Homo sapiens: one gene and its partners. The protein of the gene in region 7 interacts with the protein of the main gene of each other region in a pairwise test. Each region holds a gene or a part of one and is shown on either strand. Other genes may lie near its edges.

Evidence for each region.
Region 1: the proteins of ABI2 (region 7) and CUEDC1 interact in binary tests that used the Homo sapiens proteins (3 or more experiments, as listed by UniProt).
Region 2: the proteins of ABI2 (region 7) and EGR4 interact in binary tests that used the Homo sapiens proteins (3 or more experiments, as listed by UniProt).
Region 3: the proteins of ABI2 (region 7) and STX19 interact in binary tests that used the Homo sapiens proteins (3 or more experiments, as listed by UniProt).
Region 4: the proteins of ABI2 (region 7) and EFS interact in binary tests that used the Homo sapiens proteins (3 or more experiments, as listed by UniProt).
Region 5: the proteins of ABI2 (region 7) and ZMYND12 interact in binary tests that used the Homo sapiens proteins (3 or more experiments, as listed by UniProt).
Region 6: the proteins of ABI2 (region 7) and CEP44 interact in binary tests that used the Homo sapiens proteins (3 or more experiments, as listed by UniProt).

What each region holds. Positions count from the first base shown.
Region 1 is NC_000017.11:57,885,913-57,889,412, reverse strand, and holds part of CUEDC1 (CUE domain-containing protein 1), read left to right. Parts: intron 1-3,500.
Region 2 is NC_000002.12:73,290,749-73,294,701, reverse strand, and holds EGR4 (early growth response protein 4), read left to right. Parts: upstream 1-1,153; 5' UTR 1,154-1,384; coding exon 1,385-1,520; intron 1,521-1,920; coding exon 1,921-3,245; 3' UTR 3,246-3,773; downstream 3,774-3,953. UniProt on the Homo sapiens protein: Transcriptional regulator. Recognizes and binds to the DNA sequence 5'-GCGGGGGCG-3' (GSG). Activates the transcription of target genes whose products are required for mitogenesis and differentiation.
Region 3 is NC_000003.12:94,022,098-94,025,597, reverse strand, and holds part of STX19 (syntaxin-19), read left to right. Parts: intron 1-3,500. UniProt on the Homo sapiens protein: Plays a role in endosomal trafficking of the epidermal growth factor receptor (EGFR).
Region 4 is NC_000014.9:23,362,373-23,366,668, reverse strand, and holds the start of EFS (embryonal Fyn-associated substrate), read left to right. Parts: upstream 1-1,496; 5' UTR 1,497-1,643; coding exon 1,644-1,661; intron 1,662-4,296. UniProt on the Homo sapiens protein: Docking protein which plays a central coordinating role for tyrosine-kinase-based signaling related to cell adhesion. May serve as an activator of SRC and a downstream effector. Interacts with the SH3 domain of FYN and with CRK, SRC, and YES.
Region 5 is NC_000001.11:42,446,023-42,449,522, reverse strand, and holds part of ZMYND12 (zinc finger MYND domain-containing protein 12), read left to right. Parts: intron 1-884; coding exon 885-1,056; intron 1,057-3,500. UniProt on the Homo sapiens protein: Required for sperm flagellum function and male fertility.
Region 6 is NC_000004.12:174,290,411-174,293,910, reverse strand, and holds part of CEP44 (centrosomal protein of 44 kDa), read right to left. Parts: intron 1-3,500. UniProt on the Homo sapiens protein: Centriole-enriched microtubule-binding protein involved in centriole biogenesis. In collaboration with CEP295 and POC1B, is required for the centriole-to-centrosome conversion by ensuring the formation of bona fide centriole wall.
Region 7 is NC_000002.12:203,394,394-203,397,893, forward strand, and holds part of ABI2 (abl interactor 2), read left to right. Parts: intron 1-306; coding exon 307-453; intron 454-1,262; coding exon 1,263-1,387; intron 1,388-2,391; coding exon 2,392-2,574; intron 2,575-3,500. UniProt on the Homo sapiens protein: Regulator of actin cytoskeleton dynamics underlying cell motility and adhesion. Functions as a component of the WAVE complex, which activates actin nucleating machinery Arp2/3 to drive lamellipodia formation.

The DNA of each region.
Region 1 (3,500 bases), on a different chromosome or scaffold from region 7:
GGCCATGAGGATCAATATTTCCTTACAGAGGGCTGAAAGAATTCCAGGGATTGACATCCAGGTGCTGGGGAAGACCCCCCTAGAATCTCCCTACCCCATCCCCCCTGTGAGGGCAGCTTGGCCAATTTACCCACTGCTCCTGGCTCTTTACCAGCCTCCTGGGGCAATGATAACTCAAATGCAGCATAGCCACGTTCTAGGCAGTGTGCTGAGGATTATCTTATTTCATTCCCATTGAAACCCCCTAAGGGATACATCCAGATGAGGGCTTAGGGCCACGGAGAGGATGGGAGACTTGTCTGAGGTCCCACAGCTGGGGAGTGCGGAGGCCTTGTCTGAACTGGTGCGTGTTCCCTATAAGTGGCAAGAGTGCAAGGCTTCTGGAGCTTCTCAACACTCAGAGAGGCCCAGAACCCGAGGGAGCTGTCCAGAGGGCTGCTAATGGGGAAAATGTCGGTCTTGCCATCTTCTTTCTTCCTCCCCTGGGGGTGGCCCAGGTCATCTTTCTCCGAGGGATTGCCTTTGGCAGAGTGAGACCTGGGTCCCTCCATCTCTGTTAGTAAATTACTGGAGGGGCAGAGAGATGATGGCTTTACTCCAGAAGGCCTTAACACAAGTCACTGACCCCTGTGTGTGATGACACTAGGACAGCAGACAGTAGCCCAAGGCATCAGCTTCTGGGGCCTCCTGGCCCTGAGGTCTGTGTTAGAGGCTTGAGGGCAGGTCCCCAGAGCCCAGGACAAAGGCAGCTGTCAGGGTGGAGCCCAGGCGAAGCTGCATACTCTTCTGATGTGTGTGGGTTCGTGGAGATGTGGGTGTAGGGGTGTTGGGGTGTCTAAAGCCGGCTATGGGAAGCCATGTCATACTTGGCTACCTTCCTATGTTCCTTCTCACAGCAAAACTCTTGGACTGATCATTTGAAGTCACCCCTCTGTGTCTTCTTGTGAAATGGCTTGGGCGTCTCTGGGCTCTGACTTGCTCATCTGGGAAGAGATGGGGTAGAGGGAGTTGGATTATAAATCATGCTTCACTCAGTCAACAGAATGCTACTCAGGCACTAAAAATGATGGCGTAGCCCTACGTATTCTGACATGGGAAGATGGCCACAATATCTTATTATGTGGAAAAAACTAGTTGCATAGGATTTATGGTTTGATTACATTTTAGTAAAATAAATTCATTTATGGTGGTATATGCAAAGAAAAAATAATGCCGGGCGCAGTGGCTCACGCCTGTAATCCCAGCACTTTGGGAGGCTGAGGCAGGTGGATCACTTGAGGCCAGGAGGTTGAGACCAGCCTGGCCAACATGGTAAAACCCCATTTCCATTAAAAATACAAAAATTAGCACCAAGCGTGGTGGCACGTGCCTGTAGTCCCAGCTACTCAGGAGGCTGAGATGGGAGACTTGCTTGAACCTGGAAGGTGGAGGTTGCGGTGAGCCAAGATCACGCCACTGCACTCCGGCCTGGGCTACAGCCAGACTCTGTCTCAAAAAAAAAAAAAAAAAAAAAAGAGAAAAAGAAAAAGAAAAGAAAAAATCGAGATGTAGACACACTAAAGTGTGAACAGATTTTCTCAGGGGTTGATGTACTCACAAAAACATCTTGGCCAAGCATTGAAGCTCATGCCTGTAATCCCAGCACTTTGGGAGACCAAGGTGGGCAGATCACCTGACGTCAGGAGTTTGAGAACAGCCTGACCAACATGGCAAAACCCCATCTGTATTAAAAATACAAAAAAAAAAAAAAAAAAAAAGCCAGGCGTGGTGGCGTGTACCTGTAGTCCCAGCTACTCGAGAGGCTGAGGCAGGAGAACTGCTTGAACCTGGGAGGCAGAGGTTGCAGTGAACCAAGATCACAGCACTGTACTCCAGCCTGGGCGACAAAGTGAGACCGAAAAAAAAAAAAAAATTTCTGTATCAGCTGTTAAGATTGTGACTCCAAGTCCTAGAAAAGTGAAAACAAGTTTGCACCTGTTTCATCAAACTCAAGGATATTATTTGATGGAATTGTCCCTTAAAATAAAGCTGCCACTGTCAGAAGTTGGTGTTTAGGCGCATTCCATTCCCAGTGGTCTGTGCTAACAGAAATGCAACCTTGGCAGTGATTTACATGCCTGGGTTTGAGTGGGCCGGGTGGTTTTCTGTGGCAGATTAAGGTCCCTCATTGTGCTTGATTTTCAGTTCCACCTATACATGTTGTCAGGACACTGTGCTGACCCTGGGGGCTGAGGGACACACATTGGCTGGGGCAGGAGAACTGGGCTTGGTGGGGATAAGAACAGAATTTATGGCCGGGCACGGTGGCTCACGCCTGTAATCCCAGCACTTTGGGAGGCCGAGGCGGGCAGATCACGAGGTCAGGAGATCGAGACCATCCTGGCTAACATGGTGAAACCCTGTCTCTACTAAAAATACAAAAAAAAATTAGCCGGGTGTGGTGGCGGGCGCCTGTAGTCCCAGCTACTCGGGAGGCTGAGGCAGGAGAATGGTGTGAACCCGGGAAGCGGAGTTTGCAGTGAACCGAGATCGTGCCGCTGCACTCCAGCCTGGGTGACAGAGCGAGACTCCGTCTCAAAAAAAAAAAAAAAAAAACAACCAGAATTTATGATGTATATGGTTTCTCAAGACAACTTTGAGAAAAAACTTCTAGAATTTTTAAAAATATGTAAGGACACTGAGTGTTCCATAAGAACAAACGTGTCTGTGATATAAATAAAACATGTCGGCCTGACATTGGGGTAAGGAAAATGAACTCCAGGGGTTGACAATGGCCTTGCATCTCTCTTTTGGGCTGGTGCTTCTCAGGGGAATGGACTGAGTTTTAGGGCCTGACATGAGTTTTCCAAGAGTGGGAACTGGGCCTCCCCTATTAGCCCGAGGCTCTGCAAGGATGAAACCCTGTTTCCTCTCTCAGGCTGGAAGCTCCCGGTGACACTGGAGGGTCCCGCTTCTCATCACTGCTGTCCCCGGGGTTCGATGGAGCTCTGCACAAGATTCCTGCCCTGGTGGTGGGACCACGATGTTGGGGCAGTGATGTGGGAAGATGAGAACAGGGACTAGAGATCAGAGAGGCAGGACATCTTTAAAGAGCCCCTCCTGCCTCACTCAGGTCTTCAGGGGTCTTTGGCAGTATGTGTAATGGTAGAGACCAGTGACTTGAGGGCCATATGTCCCAGATTCAAATCCTGGCTCCTCCACTAACTCAGCGTCTATACCTCACTTTTCCCATCTGCAACATGGGCATACTAGCACATACCTTACAGTATTGTCATGAGTTGGCCCACATAGAGCACTTAGGATGGCACCTGGGTCGGAGGAATCCCTTGCTAACTGGTGGCTGTCCTGTGCTAGTAAAGAACTGTGGGGATTTCATTACTGAAGCCGGGGAGAAAGCATGAGGAAGAAGCAAGCCTCCCTTGCCCGTGGTAGGGGTCGCGGTTCCCTGCCCTCATTTCTTAGTAGCCCTTGGCCGCCACCCTGAGCTCATGTTTTGTTAG
Region 2 (3,953 bases), about 130 Mb from region 7:
AGAAGCATCTCATACCCTGTGGGTGAGGGAGGAGTGAGCAGGAATTGGCCCTACTTTTCTGGAAGACAATTTGCCAGTTGTCTATCAAAATTTTACATATACTTTGGCACACAATTACACTCGTTGGAATTTATCTCACAGACACATTCACATTTATATAGTCAAGGATGTTGACTCCAACAACATTGGTATAAGTAAAAAGTTGGAAACTGCCTACATGCTCATGGATAGGGGACAAATCGACTAACTCAAGGTCCTCCCTTACAATGGAGTACTATACAGCCTTGAAAAAGAATGACAAGATCTTTATGTCAGGACATGGCACAATCTCTAAGTTATTTCAAGTGAAAAAATAATAATAATAATAATATTGCAGAACAATGTGTATGGTTGGATATACATAAAATTCTTCTGAAAGAATACCCAAGAAACTTAAATGTGGCTACCTCAGGAGCTAGGAATGAAGGTAGGTGGAGAGGAGGGACTTTTACTTTTCAATTTAGAATATACCCTGTTGTGCTAGTTGACTTTCCTCCTACTGTTAACAAGTATTACAGTCCTTTTTAATTTAAATTATTTTTCCTAGCACAAATTTAAAAAAAAAAAACTTAAAATGGAAAAACACACAGGCGTGAGCAAAAGAAATGAATGGCAATAATCTCTGTGGTTTACTGAGTGCGCCTGGACATTTATGTGCTCTCAGTTTCTCTCCACAGGAAATGCACAGGTGAGAAACTGACGTTAAGGGGGACTGAGTGTCAAGCTAGTTAGTGGCAGAGGGCAGATTCAAACCCAACACGGTCCTCCCCTGCTGCCCCTCGGCCTCTGCCTCCAGGTGGGAAGCGCATCTACCGGACGGTCGGCCCGGTGAGGCGCAGCGCCCCAGACTGGCGCATCCGCGGCCCCAGCGCTCCACGCCTGGGGAGCGCGCGCGCACGCAGCGGCGCGAGCCTGGCGGCGGCGGCGACAACAACAACGTCACAGCTCGAGCTTTCCTTTTCGGGAGTCCCCGGCACACATCCTGTGTCCATGTTTGGGCATTTACGTCACGGCGGCAGGGCCGGGGCCTCCCAAAATGGCAGTGGCCCGGGGAGTCGGAAGCCCGGAGCCAGCGCCGCCGCAGCTATATAAGTGGGGGGGCTGTGGGCTGGGGGAGCCCGGCAGCGCTTTGGAGAGGCGAGGAGCCGCCGCCCGAGGCCGGTGCGGGCGAGCGAGGGCGCCGCGGCTCCCCGACTCCTTTCCCAGAGGTGAGTGCCCGAAGCCAGGAGCCCGGGCGCCTAGGTCTGTGCGCTGCGGGGAACCCCTACCGCCAGCCTCCCCGCCACCCGCGCGCCCCCAAGCCCAGCGGGCGAGGCCCCGGGCGCCCCACAGCCGGCGCCGCGCCATGCTCCACCTTAGCGAGTTTTCCGAACCCGACGCGCTCCTCGTCAAGTCCACTGAAGGCTGTTGCGCCGAACCCAGCGCTGAATTGCCCCGGCTGCCTGCCAGGGACGCTCCCGCGGCCACCGGCTACCCTGGAGGTAAGGAGGGCGAGCAGGGGTGCTCAGACGACGACGGCGCAGCGCGGGGGCGCACCATACCTGAGAACCAGGAGGGACTGGGACATTGGAGCTATGAGAATAGGGGCGATGGGAAGCTTAGGAGTCCTGGGGTGCGCACCCCCATTCCCACCCACACTGGGCCGCCAGCGCCTCCGCAGGAACCTGTGCGGTTATCGGAGCGCCCTTTTGCCTGTGCACGTGTGTTTTGCGTGTGCATGTTTCTATGTGCTCCTTGGGACGTATGCGGGCCCCTGCTGAATCAGAATGTGCAAAAGGCACTTTGTGTATATCCGTGGGCACCAAGAGTTTTGTAGGTAGGGGCTGTGGACTCAGGTGCACCCTTTGATGTGCCCAGAGCTGATTCCTGCTCCCTCCTCAGCAGGCGACTTCTTGAGCTGGGCTTTGAACAGCTGCGGCGCAAGTGGGGACTTAGCCGACTCCTGCTTCCTGGAGGGGCCTGCGCCCACACCCCCTCCCGGCCTCAGCTACAGCGGTAGCTTCTTCATTCAGGCAGTGCCCGAACACCCGCACGACCCGGAGGCACTCTTCAACCTCATGTCGGGCATCTTAGGCCTGGCACCCTTCCCCGGTCCAGAGGCAGCAGCGTCCAGATCCCCGCTGGATGCCCCTTTTCCTGCGGGGTCCGATGCCTTGCTGCCGGGTCCGCCGGACCTTTACTCCCCGGATCTGGGCGCTGCCCCTTTCCCAGAGGCGTTCTGGGAGGCCTCGCCTTGCGCGGGTGCCCCCTCGCAGTGCCTGTATGAGCCTCAGCTCTCCCCGCCCGACGTCAAGCCCGGCCTCCGGGCGCCTCCCGCCTCGCCAGCGCTGGACGCTGTCTCTGCCTTCAAGGGTCCCTACGCGCCCTGGGAGCTGCTTTCTGTGGGGGCCCCAGGGAACTGTGGGTCACAGGGAGACTACCAGGCCGCCCCGGAGGCTCGTTTTCCCGTAATAGGGACCAAGATTGAGGACTTGCTGTCCATCAGCTGCCCTGCGGAACTGCCGGCCGTCCCAGCCAACAGACTCTATCCCAGCGGGGCCTATGACGCTTTCCCGCTGGCCCCGGGTGACTTAGGGGAGGGGGCTGAGGGCCTCCCTGGGCTCCTGACCCCTCCTAGTGGGGAGGGAGGGAGTAGCGGCGACGGCGGAGAGTTTCTGGCCAGTACGCAGCCTCAGCTTTCCCCGCTGGGCCTTCGCAGCGCCGCCGCGGCGGACTTCCCTAAACCTCTGGTGGCGGACATCCCTGGAAGCAGTGGCGTGGCTGCACCACCCGTGCCGCCGCCGCCGCCCACCCCTTTCCCCCAGGCCAAGGCGCGACGCAAGGGGCGCCGCGGCGGCAAATGCAGCACGCGCTGCTTCTGCCCGCGGCCGCACGCCAAGGCCTTCGCTTGCCCGGTGGAGAGTTGTGTGCGGAGCTTTGCGCGCTCCGACGAGCTCAATCGCCACCTGCGCATCCACACGGGCCACAAACCCTTCCAGTGCCGCATCTGCCTCCGCAACTTCAGCCGCAGCGACCACCTCACCACGCACGTGCGCACCCACACCGGCGAGAAGCCTTTTGCTTGCGACGTGTGCGGCCGCCGCTTCGCGCGCAGCGATGAGAAGAAACGGCACAGCAAGGTGCACCTCAAGCAGAAGGCGCGCGCCGAGGAGCGGCTCAAGGGCCTCGGCTTTTACTCGCTGGGCCTCTCCTTCGCTTCTCTCTGAGCAAGAGATGGGTTTATGGGTTGGGGCGCCGCCGTTCGGCGCGCACGAGTTCCGGGCCGTTCCCCTCCCCGCTCTTCTTCCAACTCCTCCTCGCACGCCCGAGGGCCGGCCTCCGGTCCCGCTTCCAGTTTCCTTGAAGCGCCCGCCGCACACGCCCTATTCAGCACCAGCTCCGCGGACAGTTCCCGCGGTCCAGGCGCTGTCACCCTTGTCAGCCGCGCTTTGGGGGAAGTCTTCTGAGACCACCCAGTGAATAGGCACTACCCTGGGATTCAAGACAGTCTTTTGTAACTGGCACACGCCCCACGCCTTCCTCTATAACCCCCAGAGACAGGCTGGGGCAGCGCCAAGGCGGTCTCGCGCGGGACTTTGTACAGCAGTGTCTTATCCAGCAGCCATTGGATGTAACGTTTTGCTTTGGGTTTTTTTTCCTTTTGTTGTTGTTAATTTTTGTAAAGCAGACGCTACTCTCAAGCAGTTGACAAAACTGTTTATTTTTGCAATTAAAATTATTGTGCTAAAAGCTTACTGAATCTGCCATGTAAGCTCCTGACCCTTCCCCTTAGCTTCTCCCCCAGGACCATATGTGCCAGAAGATAAAGGAGATCCCCACGCTCATGGGATACAGACCCTGAACATATTACACACCCACTGTCAGGCACACCTGCCAGGAACTGCGGCACAGAGTAGGCATTCAGTAAATGTGTG
Region 3 (3,500 bases), on a different chromosome or scaffold from region 7:
GGCTACTGACGAATTTCACTAAATACACTTGCCCACATTTAACAGAGTGGTCACCAGTCCGTGGCCACAGCAAACATAGGAATTTACTCCTAAGAAACTAGAAATAACCTAATAATGTAAAGGATCTTTCACATAAATATTCTCTAAATGTTCAAAAGAAATACAGGCATAGGATCCATAAACCAAGACAAACACAGTATAACCTTTATAGCTCACTTTAAACATCGTTTACATAATACGCATTGCCATGATGTATAACACTGAAAGGAAACCTGATTCTATTTCCATGTTTTGCCTTTAATATCAATAATGTATACAGATATTAAAAAAAGGATATTTTGTTTTTTGCTTGTAAATTCATTAAGATTAATAAAAAGGACATATTAATATATTTTAAAGGGCTCCTTAAAGTACCTTTTATTCAAATATAAAAGTGTGGTGCATGTTCAGGGAATGATATTACATGGATAAAAATCCAGGAAAAAAACAACCTTTATAGAGGTCAGACTCAAATATCCTGCTTTCCAAAATCAGTGGCAGTAAAATGCACCTTCTCAAAGGCACTTCACAGGAAAATTCACCTTCCCAGAGGCCTGTGTACACTGTGCTCCAATAGCAATTTGAAATAGTCTATTTCTTAAAAATTTTTAAACTATGATGCTTTAGAAAAAGGCTTTTGATTACTTTATTTCTAATTTTTTTAAAAAAGAGGCTGGGTGCACTAGCTCATGCCTATAATCCCAGCACTTTGGGAGGCGGAGGTGGGAAGATTGCTTGAGCCCAGGAGTTAGAGATCAGCCTGAGCAACACAGCAAGACCTCATCTTTACAAAAAATTTTAAAAAATCAGCCAAGCACAGTGGCATGCAACTGTAGTCCCAGCTACTCGGGAGGCTGAGGGAGAAGGATCACTTGAGCCTGGGAGGTAGAGGCTGCAGTGAGCCGCAATTGAGCCACTATACTCTAGCCTGGGTGATAGAGTGAGATCCTATCTCAAAAATAAAACAAAACAACACGCCCAAAAAAGGACAAAGATCTTTCCAGTCATAAAAACATTAGAGGGAGTTGTTTCAGGATTTGTTCCAAACCATGCAACCAAAGAGAAAGTTCAAGATGTTGTAGTTCTTGAGGAATGTGAAAATTAAAGATTGTTAAAAGCTACTGAACCATTGTATAAATATAGGACTTAATTTTTATGGATAGAAAATCAAAATCTGTTTTGTTTGATGCCACTTTCTCTTTCTCTCGCCTCTGAGCTTCTAACATTGTTACTCTTTCTTTTTCCCTATATTTACACGGGTGCAACCCAGTTTAAAAAATAATAATGTGGCAACTAGCACTTCAGCTATATATGCTGTATTTTTAAGAATTCATAGTCAAGGTGGAAGGATCCCTTGAGGCTAGGAGTTCAAGACCAGCCTGGACAAAAGAGCGAGATCCTTTCTCTATTAATTGATTAATTAATTAATTTTTAAAAAACAATTCATAGTGACAAGCTAGTACAAGAGAAGGAAACAGAAATTTGGTTAGATGACTATGAGTTGAAGCAGAAGAAAATATAAGAATATCAATCTCCATATAGTACCAAATATAAAATGCAATATTTCTTAGACTTTCTGTAAACATCAGTCTGTGAGATCCAAATTATTTTTCTTCTTTTATAGTGTAAAGTGATCAATTTGGTCTGATTATATTAAAGATCCTAATAAAGCTTCAAACAACAACATTATTTTAGATCCTATATGCTATATTATCTCCTGCTAAATTTTTTCTTTTAAATAGATATAGTATGTATATTAGTAACATAATACAGTATTTGATATAGATAAACATTATTTGTGTATATTTCACTAGGATAACCAATTTCTACTCAATAGACAATAGGGGAAAAAGAACAGATTTGCAATCAAGTAGATATGTCTAAACGTAGGATCTGCCACCTTTTAGTTGTGTGGCCTTAGGCAAGTCACTTTAAAATTCCCCTTATTTGGACGTTGCTTTTCTTGGACTGGACTGTTTCTTTAATTTTCTTAATGTCTGAAAGGCCATGAAAATAATACAAAGAAAATGGAGAAAATAAAGTTCTTAAAGAAATTATTTAAAAAAAAAGCAAGACCGTAAATACATGAGTTTCTAGGTTGAAAAGACCAACTATATGTTTACCAAATAAATGCATCAAGACCTACCCCAGATCACATTGTTGTGAAATTTCAGAACACCAGGAATATGAAAAAAAGGTCAAGAATTTCATGAAAGGAAATATAAAAACAGATCTACAAAATATCAGAAAACACAGGGCAGAATATTCAGAGGTAACAAAACTAGAAGATGTAGTAACAAAACTTTCAAAATTTTGAGGGAATATAATTTCCAACTGAAACTTATATCCACAGAAAATATAGTATTCAAGTATAGGACAGAATAAAAATATTTTCAGTAATGAAAATTATCATTGCATTTATGTTTTGAAAAGGAGCTATGGTACACTCCCAAATCAAGGAGATAAACCAAGAAAGGTGAGGAATTGGAAATCAAAAATAGAGAATATAAAAGAGGAAGAAAATTCTAACACAATCAGGTTACATTAGAGTTTCCAGGAAAGGAGCCTCAAAAGATGAATAAAATGAAATAAAAATATATATATTCTATATTTAAATATGTCAAGAGGATATGTTCAATTCACTTCAGTTTTAGAATGAATTAGTGATGTATGTACAAAATTAAGCAGGTGAAAAACTTTGGTAATTAATATTTTCTTAAAATTAAATGTTATATGTTTCTTGATCTATGTGGTAGTTACATGGATGTATTTACTTTGTGAAAAATCACCATAATATACATTTATGTTCTGGGGGACTTTCTGTATATATAAATATGTCAATAAGAAGTTTTCTTAAATATATTCATTTTCTATCTCTATCCATTGAAAAAACTTAGAAATAATTTAAAAAATTATTTGAGAAAGGAAATACAGCTACAGTACCTTAGGTGACTCACATATAAATAATATTTGGGTAGTCACAATAATGTAAACACAAAATATTGATTAACCAAAATTTGTGATATAACTGTATTAAAAGGGGGAAGGTGAGGGAAGAATGGGGGTGTGAGAGAAGATTAAATCCACATCTTCCATAGAAGAAATTCAATAAAATAACTAAAACCAAAAAAGCAGCCGGGTGCGGTGGCTCACACCTGTAATCCCAGCACTTTGGGAGGCTGAGGCGGGTGGATCACTTGAGGTTAGGAGTTCAAGACCAGCCTGGCCAACATGGTAAAACCCCATCTCTATTAAAAATACAAAAATTAGCTGTGCGTGGTGGCAGGCGCCTGTAATTCCAGCTACTCAGGAGGCTGAGGCAAGGAGAAATCACTTGAACCAGGGAGGAGGAGGTTGCAGTGAACTGAGATCACACCATTGCACTCCAGCCTGGGTGACAACAGCGAAACTCTGTCTCAAAAAAAATAAAATAAAATAAAACTGAAGAAGCAAAAATACCT
Region 4 (4,296 bases), on a different chromosome or scaffold from region 7:
GCTGGGCGGAAGGCGCGCGCTCCCTCCCATGGGAAAGACAGATGTGGGGCTAATGAAAGGGAGGCCGAGAGGCGCGGGGACGGCCGGGGAGACGGGGGCGTGGCGGGGAGAGGAAAGCTCCCGGAGAAAGCCGATCGGACCACCGCAAGCGAGGCATGCAGCGGAGTCCGGAGGAGGAAGGCGCCGGGGACTGGGGCAGGGCCAGGGCGGGACGGGGGTGGGGGGTGTGGGGGGTACCACAGGCAGTTGGACCCGAGGGTCCTGAGCTGAAACTCAACACCCGCCTTTGGAAGGATCGTCCCTCTTTCTCCTCCGCCCCTTCCCTTCCCCTCCCCTTTCCCCTCCCTCCTTTCTCTTAATCCCCAGGACGGAGCCCTGCGCGGGAGAGGAGAGGGCCTGAGGGGAGGAGAAAGGAACAGCACTGAGAGGGGCCAGGAGCCCAGGAAGGGGAGGGAAGGGCAGCCGCGGGCCAGGGGTGAGCCTGCGGGCCACGCGCGACCCCCGGAGCCTTCGCAGCCCTCTCAGTGTCCCCACTCCCAGCCCAGGCGAGTCCACAGGACCCGGGCCCCTGCTCCTCCCTCGCCTTCTCTTTGCTCCTTCTTTTGCTTTGTGGCCTTTCTTTCCCTTCCCAGAGACACCTGGGAGCTGCCCCCAAGCTTTGGGGCGCCCCGCGGGGCCCTGCCAAGGGTGCGTGTGAGAGAGGGCGGCGGAGCCGGCGCCGGGTGCCAGGGGCCGAGGGTGGGAGCGGGAGCTCGTGGCCCTGCGCCCTGGAGCCGAGGACTGGAAGGGGGCTGGGCCCCTCCGCCGCCTGGGCGCAGGCCGCGCGTCGGGAAGGCAGTCCCGCCTGTTCCAGGGGTGCCTGCGTGCTGGTTGCTGCTGCCCGGGGCGAGGCGCCGTAGCGGCGACCTCAGACCCCCGGGCGCGCTGAGTGAGTGCGCGCGTGAAAACCGCCGCACCGCCGGGGGTGCGAGTGTCTGGGCCGAAGCGGCCACTCCAGCGACCCAGCCCCACGGCCACGCTCTCGGGGGCCTTTGGCTCCAGGCAACTTGGGGCAAGCGTCTCAGTTCTCGCTCTCCCTTCCTCCCAGCGGGGTCGCCGCAGACCCCAGCCCTGGGAGCACCGCTCTGCAGCGCGGCCGGCGGGTGGAGACGGTTGGCCCCTAAACTCGCTCGTCCAGCCCAACCGCCCCGGCGGCTTCTCCCAGCCCTCGAGGCTCTCCTGAGCGGCCTGGAGAGGCGTCGAGCGCAGCCCAGCGCCCGCCTGCTCACCCGCCCCGGCCCGGGAAGGGAATTTTCGGATCCTGCGAGCCCGGGGCGCCCCCGCGGCCTAGGGCGGGCAGCTCCCGGGGCCTGGCCGAGCCGGTGGCGCCCGGGAGGCCGCGGGGACAGCACGCAGCGCGCGCCCTTGGATGCCGTCCCGCAGCGACGCCCCGGCCCGCCCCGCTCCTCCTCCTGCCTGGCTAGCCTGCCTCTCATTTGGGAAGTTTTGTGGGTTTTCTTTCTCCTCCTCCAACCTTGGCGGAGGCCACGACTCAGGCGCCACAGCTGGGGGCTAGAGGCCGCGGACCATGGTGCGGGGCAGCCACCGCTGAAGTCAGCAAAACCGAGCCTGGCCTGAGGCAGGCTGCGCGGGAGGCCAAAGCCATGGCCATTGCCACGTCGGTGAGTCCACCAGGGAGTGGAGGCTGCCGGGGAGAGACCTCCACGGCCTGCCCTGCGCTCCTGTCACTTTATTTCTGCCCTCTCTTTGTCTCTCTCCTTGGTCCCTTTCTTCTCCAGGAGGCTGTGTCCCCCTCCTCTCACTTTTGTTTCCCTTCTCCCTCTCACTCCTCATCCCCTGCTCCTCCTGGCTCCGGGCTCGCCCCTCTTCCCCGCCCCCTCCCCATTCTCCTTTTTCTTCCTAGAGGCTGCGCCTGAATGGAGGGGAAGGGGCAAGCGTAGCCCGAGTCCTATCTGCTCCTTTTGGGCGGGAACAGATGGCCACTGGTGGTTGGCAGAGGCTTGTGGTTGGGAGGCAAGTAAAAGGTTTGGAGGGGGCTGAAAGGACCTAGTGGCTCACGGAAAACGGAAAACGAGAGGCTGAACGACCCCAGGAGGCCCATCTCGAGACGAGGGATAAGGAAAAAAGGGAGATAGAGCAAAGGAGGGAGATCAAGAAAGAGAAGACAGAGGGAGGAGGGGAGGTGATGTCAGCCAGAGCCTCAGGCCACTTTCCAGGGATCGGGACAAAGGGAGGAGACAGCTGGCATGATGGGACAGTGGGAGGAGGCCTCCCAGAGAGCACAGAGGCTCTCTGCCACCTACATTAGGCTGGCCATTCCCTCACCAGTCAGCTGGGCTGCTGGGGGATAGAGCAGGAGTGGTCACACCCATCATCAATCAGTCCATCAACAACTCTGTCCTGCAATGGCAGGGCCCAGAGGCTTGGCTCCATTGGACAGAACTCAGTCCTAACACCGGGAGGAGCGCTCTACAGCCCCACCTCTGCTTTCTGTTCTACAGTCTATGCAGTCTGAATCCAGGCAGCTTTGTTCCCTTTCCACCCTCTTCTAGGTCCTGCCTAAGATTCCCAGGGAAGCGAGGCCGTCACCTGCTTTCTGTTCCCTTCTCAGTGGGGACTCTCGGAGAGAGACTGGAAAGAGAAGCACAGAGCCACCCAATGTCCTCCCATACCCTTTGAGGACAGGTTCAAGTTTGGTTCTTTCTCAGACCAAACTCCATTTTTTTTTTTTTTTTGAGACAAGGTCTCACCCTGTCACCCAGGCTGGAGTGCAGTGGCACAATCACGGCTCAATGCAGCCTCGACCTCCTGGGCTCAGGTGATCCACCTACCTCAGCCTCTTGAGTAGCTGGGACTACAAGCACGCACCACCACATCAGCTTTTTGTATTTTTTGTAGAGGCAGGGTTTCGCCATGTTGCCCAGGCTGGTCTCAAACTCCTGGGCTCAAACAATCCATCCGCCTCAGCCTCCCAAAGTGCTGAGATTACAGGCATGAGCCACCGCACCTGGCCCCAAATTCCTTTTAGTTCCTCAATCTGTAACGATGGCCAGGAAACCCTAGCTCAGAGTGGGGAAGGAGGCCCTCTGGAGATAGAGTACCTCTGGGAGTACTCTGGCATAGAGATACTGGTTCAGAAGCCAGCTGGTCAGCTTTGTAGTCCCAAGAATGTAGATTTTTCTTTTTGGGGTCAGGGGCATTTATGCTAATCAAACTCACAGGATTCTAATAACAGCTATTATTTATTGAGCATTTACTGCACCTGGCCCTGTGCTGCGCTTTGTCATAGTTTCTTTATGCGTTATCTCATGCAACTCTCACAACTACCCTGTGAAGGTAGTATTGTTATTATCTGAAAATGGATATGCGCATATGGAATTCTACAGAGAAGGAAATTGAGACTCAGAAAGGTTAAACAATCTGCCCAAAGGAACCTGGCTAGAAAGGGACAGACCTGGCTGGGCGCAGTGGCTCACACCTGTAATCCCAGCACTTTGGGAGGCAGAGGCGGGCGGATCATGAGGTCAGGAGATCAAAACCATCCTGGCTAACACAGTGAAACCCCGCCTCTACTAAAAATACAAAAAATTAGCCGGGCGTGGTGGTGGGCGCCTGTAGTCCCAGCTACTCGGGAGGCTGAGGCAGGAGAATGGCGTGAACCCGGGAGGCGGAGCTTGCAGTGAGCCGAGATCGCACCACTGCACTCCAGCCTGGGCGACAGAGCAAAACTCCGTCTCAAAAAAAAAAAAAAGAAAGAAAGAAAAAGAAAGGGACAGACCTCCAAGCAGTGGGTCGCAACGGTAATCCCAGGTATTTAGGAGGCTGAACCCAGGCATTCGAGGTTACAGTGAGTTATGATTGTGCCACTGCACTCCAGTCTGGACCACAGATCAAGAGCTGATCTCTAAAGAAATATTTTAAATAAAATTTTAAAAGAAAGAGACACAGCCAAGACTCAAGCCCAGGTCTGCCTCTAGAACTGTGCTTTTAATCCCCTGGCTAGATCCAAAAGACTGATTTATAATTTACAACTAAAAAGAAAAGTGCAGCACTAACCGGGAATTTGTGTCATCTGGTTAGCACGTTTCTTTGTGTGGGACAATATCCTTTAGAAACCAAAATATAATCAGAAAATGGTTTGATGAGTTGGGAATCAGGCAAGAAGAGGGGTCAATTTGTTGTTAAAATCACCCAGCCATGAGAGGCCGGATAACCTCACCACCAGAGGGAAACATCAGCTAAGAGGAATATGCACTCCTGCTGACTCTAGCAGGGCATCCTTCTCCCCAGGGTCTG
Region 5 (3,500 bases), on a different chromosome or scaffold from region 7:
TCTCTTTGTGTGTCCAATTTCCTCTTTTTATAAAGACACAAGTCAGATTAGGTTAGGGCCCACCCTAATGGCCTCATTCTAACTTAATCACCACTCTACAGGCCCTAGCTCCAATTATAGTCATGTGACAGACTGCAGGATAGGGCTTCAACACATGAATTTTGGCAGGGGACACAGTTCAGCCCATAACATCCACAGATGCCAAGAGTCTGGCCACATAATAGGAGGGTTAAGAATGATGTATGGATATACTACTGAATAAATAAAGGAGGTTACCAAAACCTGCCACTATTATTATGTATAGTGTTGAGTATTATTGAGTATTGAGCATCTCAATCACTCTAAAAAATTAGCCCCTTATTATAAGCCATAAATCTCTAAACATAAGATCCATCCATTTTAGTGTTATGACACTTTGATAGTGGCCTTAGAACAATGCAGAGTTAAAGTTTTTTGTGATATTAGCTAAACAGGATAATTCTGGAAGGGAAAATGAGATGTTTCTCTCAAAATTAACTCAACTAGGAAGGCAGAAAGTTTCAGATTGTCCTGAGACATGCTAGCTTTGCTAAAGTAAAGTTTTATTAGAACTGTAAAAACAATACTCATTTATTCATCTGATAACTCTATATTGAGCATTCATCTATGCCAAGCGCTGAACTAAGATGAAAATACACATGTTCCTGGGCCTTAAGGAACTCATAGTCCAGAGTTTGCTTTCTTATATCACTTATGTGGGGCTTCACGTCCACTCTAATACAGGCAGGCTCACTATGTGCCTTTAACTGGGTCATTAGGTGTTGGCCTTATCCCCAGGGCCATCTACATCCACCTTTGCCTTTAACTTTAGACTGTCTCAGATAGTCTGTTTCTCTCTTCCACAGAAGTATTTGATTGAATTCTGCTACACCATAGCCCAGAAATACCTCTTTGAAGGGAAACACGAAGATGCTGTACCAGCAGCTTTGCAGTCCCTTCGCTTCCGTGTGAAGCTGTATGGCCTGAGCTCCGTAGAGCTTGTGCCTGCTTACCTGCTGTTGGCCGAGGCCAGCCTTGGTGAGTGAAACCGACTTGAGATCCTTGGATCCCTTAAGTGGTGTTATGTTTGGGTCACACCAATGATCAAAGAGTCACCCTTGACAGTGGCACCAAGAGACCTATTGTAGAAGGAGCAGGGTTGCTGTAAAGTTTAGCACAAGGTAGGGAAGGAGATGTCACAGACTTTTGTCTACAACTGGCAGAAATCCACTCAAGCTGGCCTGCACAAAAAGGAGGAACTTTGTGCGGGTGCTGTAGTATCCTACAGGAGCTGAGGCTTCATGAGGGACTAGAATTGGAGTGCCTTTCGTTCTCTCTTGGGCCTTGTCTCCTGTATCTACTTCTCTCTGGGTATCTATCTGCTTTGCTATTTTCCCTCTCTGCAGACCAGATTTGTCTACCCTATGCTCACTGTAGAAGACAGCTACCCCAAAATGTCAGATGGAGTTTTTCAGTTTACGTGTTTTCTAGGTTTGAAGTAGGCAGTAGAAACTAATTAGCTTCTGATTTCCAAATACAAATTCGTAGAAGACAGAATTTTGTTGACATGGCTTGAGTGTGGAATCCACCTTTATTCCCTGGGATCAGAGCCACATAGTTCAGAAATACAGGAACCCACCCCTATAGATGGGAGAGGCAATTCTGAGAGTATAGAGCAGACTTAGCAGATACCCTACATGGTGGCCACCATTTAAAAAAATGCTTCATATGTTTTAATAGCCACCATTAAAAAAATACTTTTTTAAAAGTAAAACTTTTTTAAAAGTAAAACTGTTAAAATTAAGTACAATATAAAGAACTTTTATCCCCTGAGTTCTCTGAGAGTAAGTTGTTCACCTGATTCCCTATCCTTAGAATACTTCAGTGTCCCCTTAGTAAATGAGATATATTGTATTGTGGTTATGAAGGAGAATGTCTTTGTGGGAACCACACAAGGGGACCCTGTCATCTAAGAAGACCCCATTCAAGTTTCTCGAATTTTCCCAATAACATCTTTATAGCAAAAGGATACAGTTCAGGGTCACACTTTTCATTTTGTTGCCATGTGTTGGCAACAAAACTCTGGAATAGTTTCTCAACCTTTTCTTGACTTTTATGATCTTGACACTTTTACAGGTTACAGGCCAATTGTATAAAACATTTCTCAATTTGAGTTTGTCTGATATTTCCTAATGATGGGACTCACGTTATGGATTTTTGGCAAAAACAGTACAGAGGTGATGCTGTGTTCTCATCCCATCCTATAAACTGGCATGTTTTCATTTTTTTCATTACTGATGATGTTCATTTTAATTACTTTATTAGGATGGCGTCTGCCAGTCTTCCTCCCTGTAATGTTACTCTTTCACCCTTCTGTAATTAATAACTTTAATTTTCATTTCATGGATACGTCCTTTGAAACTATATAAATATCCCATTCCTCATCGAATTTTCAATGTATTCATTTAGTTATTTGTATCAGTATTTTATCTTTATTCAATGGGCTTAAATCCATTACTATCGTTAATTTGATCCTCAAACTGTCCCTGATTTGACCAGTGACAAACCCCACTCAAGCTGGCTTCTGCATCTCCCAGATACAACCCCATTTGTTCTTTGCTCACTTGACTGCTTTCTGGAACATACCTCTAAAGAGCCCTGATCTCTTTCAGTGGAAAGTGAAAATCAGAAGCCAAAAGCTGTGCACTAGATGTACTCATGCTTTTGGGGTATTACTGCTCCCAGGCCTTCTCAGTGGAGTTAGGGAGTAAGTGTAAATATAATAATGGGTGTACGTATACACACATTACATCTGTATTTATTTCTATATCTATATATCTTTTTTTTTTTTTTGAGACCGAGTCTCACTCTGTCACCCAGGCTAGAGTGCAGTGGCGCAATCTGAGCTCACTGCAGCCTCCACCTCCCTGGTTCAAGCAATTCTCCTGCCTCAGCCTCCCGAGTAGCTGGGACAACAGGTGTGTGCCACCACGCCTGGCTCATTTTTGTATTTGTAGTAGAGACGGGGTTTCACCATGTTTGTGATCTTGAACTCCTGTCCTCAAGTGATCCACCTGCTTCAGCTTCCCAAAGTGCTGGGATTACAGGTATGAGCCACCGTGTCTGGCCTGTATCTATATATCTACATCAATATCTCTATGACCACTAGTCTATACTGTTTGATCCAGATCTAATACAGCACCATAGGGTTCAATCTGATTTACTTCCATTCCTTAATTGCAACTCCCTTTGCTGACAGCTTTCACTTTCATTGGTTTATTTACATATTAATGAGTTCCCCTGTATGAATCAATCCCCGCTCTCTAACTCCGTCCTTTCCACCTTATAGATACCTCTTCCCGCTCCATGGGCCCTGACTCCCCATTCCAGGCTGCCTCTGCTGCATGGATCCCTCCTCACTTGTGTGGGTTCCAACTCCCCATAACAGGCTGTTTGCCTGCAGGAATGCCCTGCTCACCCTG
Region 6 (3,500 bases), on a different chromosome or scaffold from region 7:
CACACTTAAGGCTGAGAAACTGTATACTTCCCCCAAAGACTGGGAATAACACGAGGATGTCCTATCTCACCACTCCTATTCAACAGTGTTCCAGAAGTCCTAGCTAGTGAAATGAAGCAAGCAAAGGAAATAAAATACCTTAGGAAGAAAGGAATAAAGTGGTCTTCATTTGCAAAAGACATGATTGTTTATTTAGGAAATGCTAAAGAATTAACAAAAAAAACCCCCTAAAAGTAAAAAGTGAGTATAGCAAAGTCACAGTATATAAGGTTAATATACAAAAGTCAAATGTTTTCCTATATACTGGCAATAAATGATTAGAATGAAATATAAAACTAAAAACACCATTATCATAGCACAAAAAACACTTATAAGTCTAACAAAATATGTAAATGATCTGTATGTGACAAATTACAAAACTATGAAAGAAATCAAAGAAGGTTTTAGCTAGAAAAGGATAGTGGAACAGGACCTCCCCAGCCCTTGTCCTTCACAGAAACACCAATTTAGCAACCATCTATGTATAAAAGTGCCCTGATGGGTCCAAGTAGAAGGCTGTGACATCCTTCTGGAGTCCAAGACTGATAGAAGCCATTTTGAGAAGGCAGAATCATGCCCCAGTAGCAGGCATGTGACTACAGAACTGGCTCCAGACCCAGCAGCAGCCTCATCAGCATGTGGGCTTCAACTCACCTGTCCAAGGTCTCACAGGAAGACTTGTTTGTCTGGGAACCCAGAAGGAACCACACCCACCCAAGCCCCAGTAACAGGCCCACAACCGCAGACCTGATTTTGAACATGTAAGCAGACCCACAACCTGGCTCCACCTAAGTGACTGTGGTTTGGAAGTCAGTCTCACCAAGGGACCCAGCAAGAGAAGATCTTCATCTACTGAAATCACTCTGTTTAGTACAGAAGTGGGAACTGCTCCTTCAAATGTACAGACACCAATGAAAGACTCAAGGGATTATTAGTAAATACAACATGCCAAAGGAAACCAATAAGGTTACAGAAACTGACTATAACAAGATGAAGATCCATGATCTGCTTGACAAAGAATTCAAAATAATCATCTTAAGCTCAATGAGCTACAAAAACAAACAAACAAATAAACAAACCCAGATAGAAAATGAAATAAAAATCAGGAAAACAATACATGAACAAAAAGTTCAATAAAGGAGAAGCATAAAAAAGAACCAAACAGAAATCCTAGAGCTGAAGGATACAATGACTGAACTAAAAAATTCAATAGAAGGCTTCAACAACAGACTCAATCAACCAAAAGAAAGAATCAGCAAACCTGAACACCGGTCATATGAAATTATACAATTAGAGGAAGAAATATTAAAAAGAATAAAAAGTGAAATGAAGTAATACTACGGGACTTATGGTACACCACTAAGTAACTTAATAAACACATTATAAAAGTTCCAGAAGGCAAAAAGACAGAGAGAAAGGGGGCAGAAAGCACATTTAGATTATGGCTGAAAACTTACCAAATCTAGGGAGGAAAATGGACATCCAGACTCACGAAGCCCAAAAGTTCCCAAATAGGTTGAAGCCAAAGAGGTCTGTACCAATAGACACTATAATGAATTTGTCAAAATTCAAAGACAGAGAAAAAATTTTGACAGCAGTGACAGAAAAGTAACTTATTTCATATAACAGAGCCTCCATAAAGGTATTGGTGAATTTCTCAGCAGAACACTTGCAGGCCAGGAGAGAGGGAATGACATATTCAACATACTGAAAGTAAAAAAAGAAACCTGCCAACTGAAAATAATTACCTGAAAAAACTGTCTTCAGGAATGAAGGAAATAGCCAGGCATGGTGGCTCACACCTGTAATCCCAGCACTTGAGGAGGCTGAGGGCAGGCAGATTGCTTGAGCTCAGGAGTTCAAGACCACCCTGGCAAACATGGTGAAATCTTGTCTCTACAAAAAATACAAAAATTAGCCAGTCATGGTGGTGCATGCCTCTAGTCCCAGCTACCTGGGAGGCTGTGGTGGGAGGCTGACTTGAGCCCAGGAGGTTGAGGTTGCAATGAGCTGAGATCATGTCACTGCACTCCAGCCTGGGCAACAGAGCCAGACCTGGAAAAAAAAAAAAAAAAAAAAAAAAAGAAAAGAAAAAGATAAAAGAATAAAGAAAACATGAAAACTTCCTCAGATTAAAAAACTCAGGGAGTTTGTCACTTTTAGACATGCCCTAACAAGAAATGCTAACAGGAGATCTTCAAGTTAACTGAAAAGATACTAAACCAACAGTATGAAAGCATATGAAAGTATACATCTCACTGCTAAAAGCAAACATGAAAACAAACATGGAATATTGCAATACTGAAATCTGTGGCACGTAAATCTCATTGAACACTAGTATATAAATTAAAAGACAAAAATAGTATGAGTAACTACAACAACCACAGAAATTTGTTAATAGAAACAATATAGAAAGAAGTAAAATCTGAAATCAATTACATACATTGGTGAGGAAGAGGGGGGAGAAGTGTAGAGATTCTGAATATGAATGAAGTTGTTACTAGCTTTAAAAAGCCTGCTATGACTACATAATATTTGATGCAAACCCCATAGTAACCAAAATAAAAAGTATAGTAAATAAACAAAAAAAAGAAAAAAATCAAAGCATTCTACTACAATCATCAAATCACAAAGACAACAAACAAGAGAAAAACAGGAGAAACAGAAAGCAAATAGAAAACAATGAATAAAATGGAAACAATTAAGTACTTAATTATTAAAAATTATTACTTTAAATTTTTAATAATTAAGGGCTCTCAGTAGACATGGAATGGCTGAAATGGATAATAAAAACAACACTCAACTATACGCTATCTACAAGAGACTCTAACATTTAAGGACACACGTAGGCTAAAAGTGAAGGGATTGAGAAAGATATTCCATGCAAACTATAACCAAAAGAGAGCAGGGTGGCTATCTATATCAGACAAAATAGACTTTAAGTCGACAACTGTCAAAAGAGACAAAGAAGGCATTATATAATAGTAAAAGGGTCAATTCAATAGAAAGATACAACAACTAAAAATACATATGCACCCAACATCAAAGCACCTTAAAATATACAGTGAACATTGACAGATTTGAAGGAAGAAATAGATATCGATACAATATAGAAGGAGACTTTGATACATCACTCTCTATAATGTACAGGTCATCCAGACAGAATGCCAACAGCAAATATTGATAGAATTGGAGGAAGAAATAGATATCAATACAATACAGAAGGAGACTTTGATACGTCACTGTCTATAATGTACTGGTCATCCGGACAGAATACCAACAAGTAAATTGCAAACTATACAACACTATAGACCAAAGACCTAACATGCATATACAGAACATGAGACCCAACCATAGCAAAATAATCATTCTTCTCAAAAGGACATGAAACATTCTCTATAACTGATCACAGCCTAGGTCACAAAACAAGTCTTAACAAATTTAAGAAGACTAAAAACATT
Region 7 (3,500 bases):
AGAAGAGGTAGGGTCTGGGAAACATTGGCTTAAATGGTAGAGAACCTTTGTGCTCTTTGAGAATAAATGAACAAAATTGCATTAGCACAGGGAAATGAGGTTGGAGACTGAAAAATAACAATATTCACCAAAACCCTAATGGTGGAGAAGTGATACATTAGTAAAGACTGAAATTGGTAGCTGGGTTATGTTAAAACACATTTCCTATCTCTGATTACAAATTGTATCTCAACTGCTGGCAACTCTTTGAATTTATTGTGCCGAAACTTGCTTAATCATACAATACATACGCTCTTCTTTTTGTAGGCGGCACTCCCCCTATCGCACACTGGAGCCAGTGCGTCCTCCAGTGGTACCAAATGATTACGTACCTAGCCCAACCCGTAATATGGCTCCCTCGCAGCAGAGCCCTGTGAGGACAGCTTCTGTGAATCAAAGAAATCGAACTTACAGGTATTTTCTCTACCTCAGTGCAAAATGTGATGGTCATAGTACCATAATCTGTTCAGATTACTTCAGGTAAATCTCTCATTTTCCAAGCACTAAGTTCTTTTCCTCACTCTATTCTCCCAAACCTCATCTGATTTCACCTCTCTCTCCTCATGTTCTGATTCAACTTTGAGCAGTCAGGAAGTTGATAAAGAACAGACATCTCAAAGTGCAGACTTCTCTCCAAGTTTTAAGAGTTCAGTTGATCTGGAAAAAAAATTATGGACCAAATGTGGGAAATGTCAGGTTGTTTTTTGGTGGAACTTTACAGATGAAAAACTATACATAATAAAACATTAATATGGGATAGTACATCAGAGTATGATTATTAATTAAAATTACTCAAATCTGTTTAGGAAAATGTTTTTGTTTTATTATAAAAGAAGTTTCTTCAGATAGGCATTAAACTGGAATATAAAAAGGCAATATTTATTGTTTTAATGTGTTAAACCTCAACATTTATCACTTGTATTTATGGATAATTTTTTCAAAATGTGGTCAAAACAAGCTTATTGAACTCAGTTTTCCCCTCAACTTTATTAATAAGTAAATATATATATATATATACACACACACACACACACACACACACACACACACACATTTTTTTTTAACCTGTCACTGACTTGGAGCTCAAGGAAATTTTATTTTGAAGTGGTACGCTTTTGAATTACCTTTATTGTAGCTACATTCATCTCAGAAAATGTCGGGAAGTGCTGATGATCTCTTACTGTTTATAAATACTCATGTTTTGGTGGCTCTTATTTCTTTAGCAGCAGTGGGAGTAGTGGAGGGAGCCACCCAAGTAGTCGGAGCAGCAGTCGAGAGAACAGTGGAAGTGGTAGTGTGGGGGTTCCTATTGCTGTTCCTACTCCATCTCCTCCCAGTGTCTTTCCAGGTAAAACATTCATGGTGCCTCGTCTTCACTTTTCCTTTCTGAATTTGATTCAATTTGTGATTTAATTATGGTGGGCTTTCTTCGTAATCAGGATTTTTTTTCTTTAGGAATCATAAATATTGGGAAGTCTATATATTTGTTATTTGTAAGCAAGTGATTTGTAAGTGTTTGCTCACTTTGCACTTCTCTTTATGCCTTTGGTGATGTGGCTCAGTTGCTGCTTTGAGGTTTCAGATCACACTTTGTTATGAGTACAAGTTTAATTCCAGCTAGTGTTATGACAGTGCAGTCTTTGGACACAGTGGGAACTCAGTGTGAGAACCATATTAGTAACAAAGGATTGGGCAGATATAAAAAGTAGTTTTGACAGTTAAATTTAGTGGCTGTATTGGAATTTAGTAGTCTCTGAAAATACTACCCTCTTTTCTCTGAAACAGAAAAATCTGCTTATTTGATTCGAGGAGATACACACTTAAAACTTAGTTTTGAAAACGTGACACAAAATACATTAATAGAATGTTACATACTTAATTTACTTATAGTAACAAGTAGATAATGCCTTTTAAAAATCATAAAGATTTGTGTTTTAAAAAAAATTTTTAATCTGATAATATGGAATATGTCTATTTTCTGATTTGTGTAATTCAAAATGGAAAACTGTTGTTTTTTAGTGTATTATGTTAGTTTTGTATACTATATACAGAATGTTATGCTAAAAATAACAATACGAAGGGAACACTTTTCTTCTGGAGTAGTGCTTTCAATTGAAAAGGAATGTTTGTTTTTAATGAATTGAAAAAATCTGCACATTACCCTGAGCATCTTGAATTATTTGCTGCTTATATAGTAATCCTTTAGCATAAGTTTTATTCTTTTTTTCAACTCTGTTCTTTTGGTTAGTGTTAAGCACTGAATATCTAACATTAAATACTCTAATACCTTTTCTAATCCTGCCTCATGTGATTGCCTCATTAATGCTGCCTCTTACTCCTCTTTCCCCTCAGCCCCTGCTGGCTCTGCTGGCACTCCTCCCCTTCCTGCTACTTCTGCATCTGCCCCTGCTCCTCTTGTTCCTGCTACTGTCCCTTCCTCCACTGCCCCAGACGCTGCTGCTGGGGGTGCCCAGACCCTTGCTGATGGCTTCACTTCTCCAACTCCCCCTGTTGTTTCTTCCACTCCCCCTACAGGTAAGTATTTGCTTATTCATTGGCAGGCAGATGCAGTCATCTGGCTATTCTCTTACTTGCACCTCTGATTTTTGTTTGTTTTTGGTTTTGTTGTACTTCGTATTAAAAAAAAATAAGAATAATGTACTAACCAGAAAGTATGTGACCAAAGATTAGCATTTCCTGAGAAAATTGAGGTAAAGTTTCTCATACATTTTTCCAATAGGGTAGCATAAATTTGTGTTTTTTTATTGCTTGAATTTCATTTATTAGAGATTTTTAAGTTTAATATGGAGCTACCTTCTATACAGTTTTTGGAAATTATCATTAGAAATATTTTCATTATAGGTTAAGTGATTAACAAAAGTCTATTACAATAATTCTAAGGTATATTTTATAGGAAATATTTGATACAACAAATGGAAAGCCTCTGTAAGTCTATTTTTAACAGAATCTGTTGCTTATTATAGCAGCATTGGAAACTCATAGACAATGGACTTTTAAAGAATTTCAGGTTTATTTAAGTTGGCTGGTGTTTTAAAATTGCAATCTAAAATCTGTTTTGATTGGGGAGGAGATAGACTCAATTGCTACGAAATATATTTGTAGAGTTAATGATGCTGGCTAGTAACAGGTTCTTGTCTGCTATAAAATGTATGTGTTTGGACATATATCACTGTATTAGTCTGTTCTCACATTGCTATAAATACCTGAGACTGGGTAATTTATGCAGAAAAGAGGTTTAATTGGCTAACGGTTCTTCAGGCTGTACAGGAAGCATGATAGTGGCATCTGCTTGGCTTCTGGGGAGGCCTCAGGAAACTTACACTCATGGCCTAAGGCAGAGGGGAAGCACACTGGTCACGTGGCCAGAGTAGGAGCAAGAGGACAAGGCGGGAGGTGCTACACACTTTTAAACAACCAGATCTCATTATTGCAAGAACAGC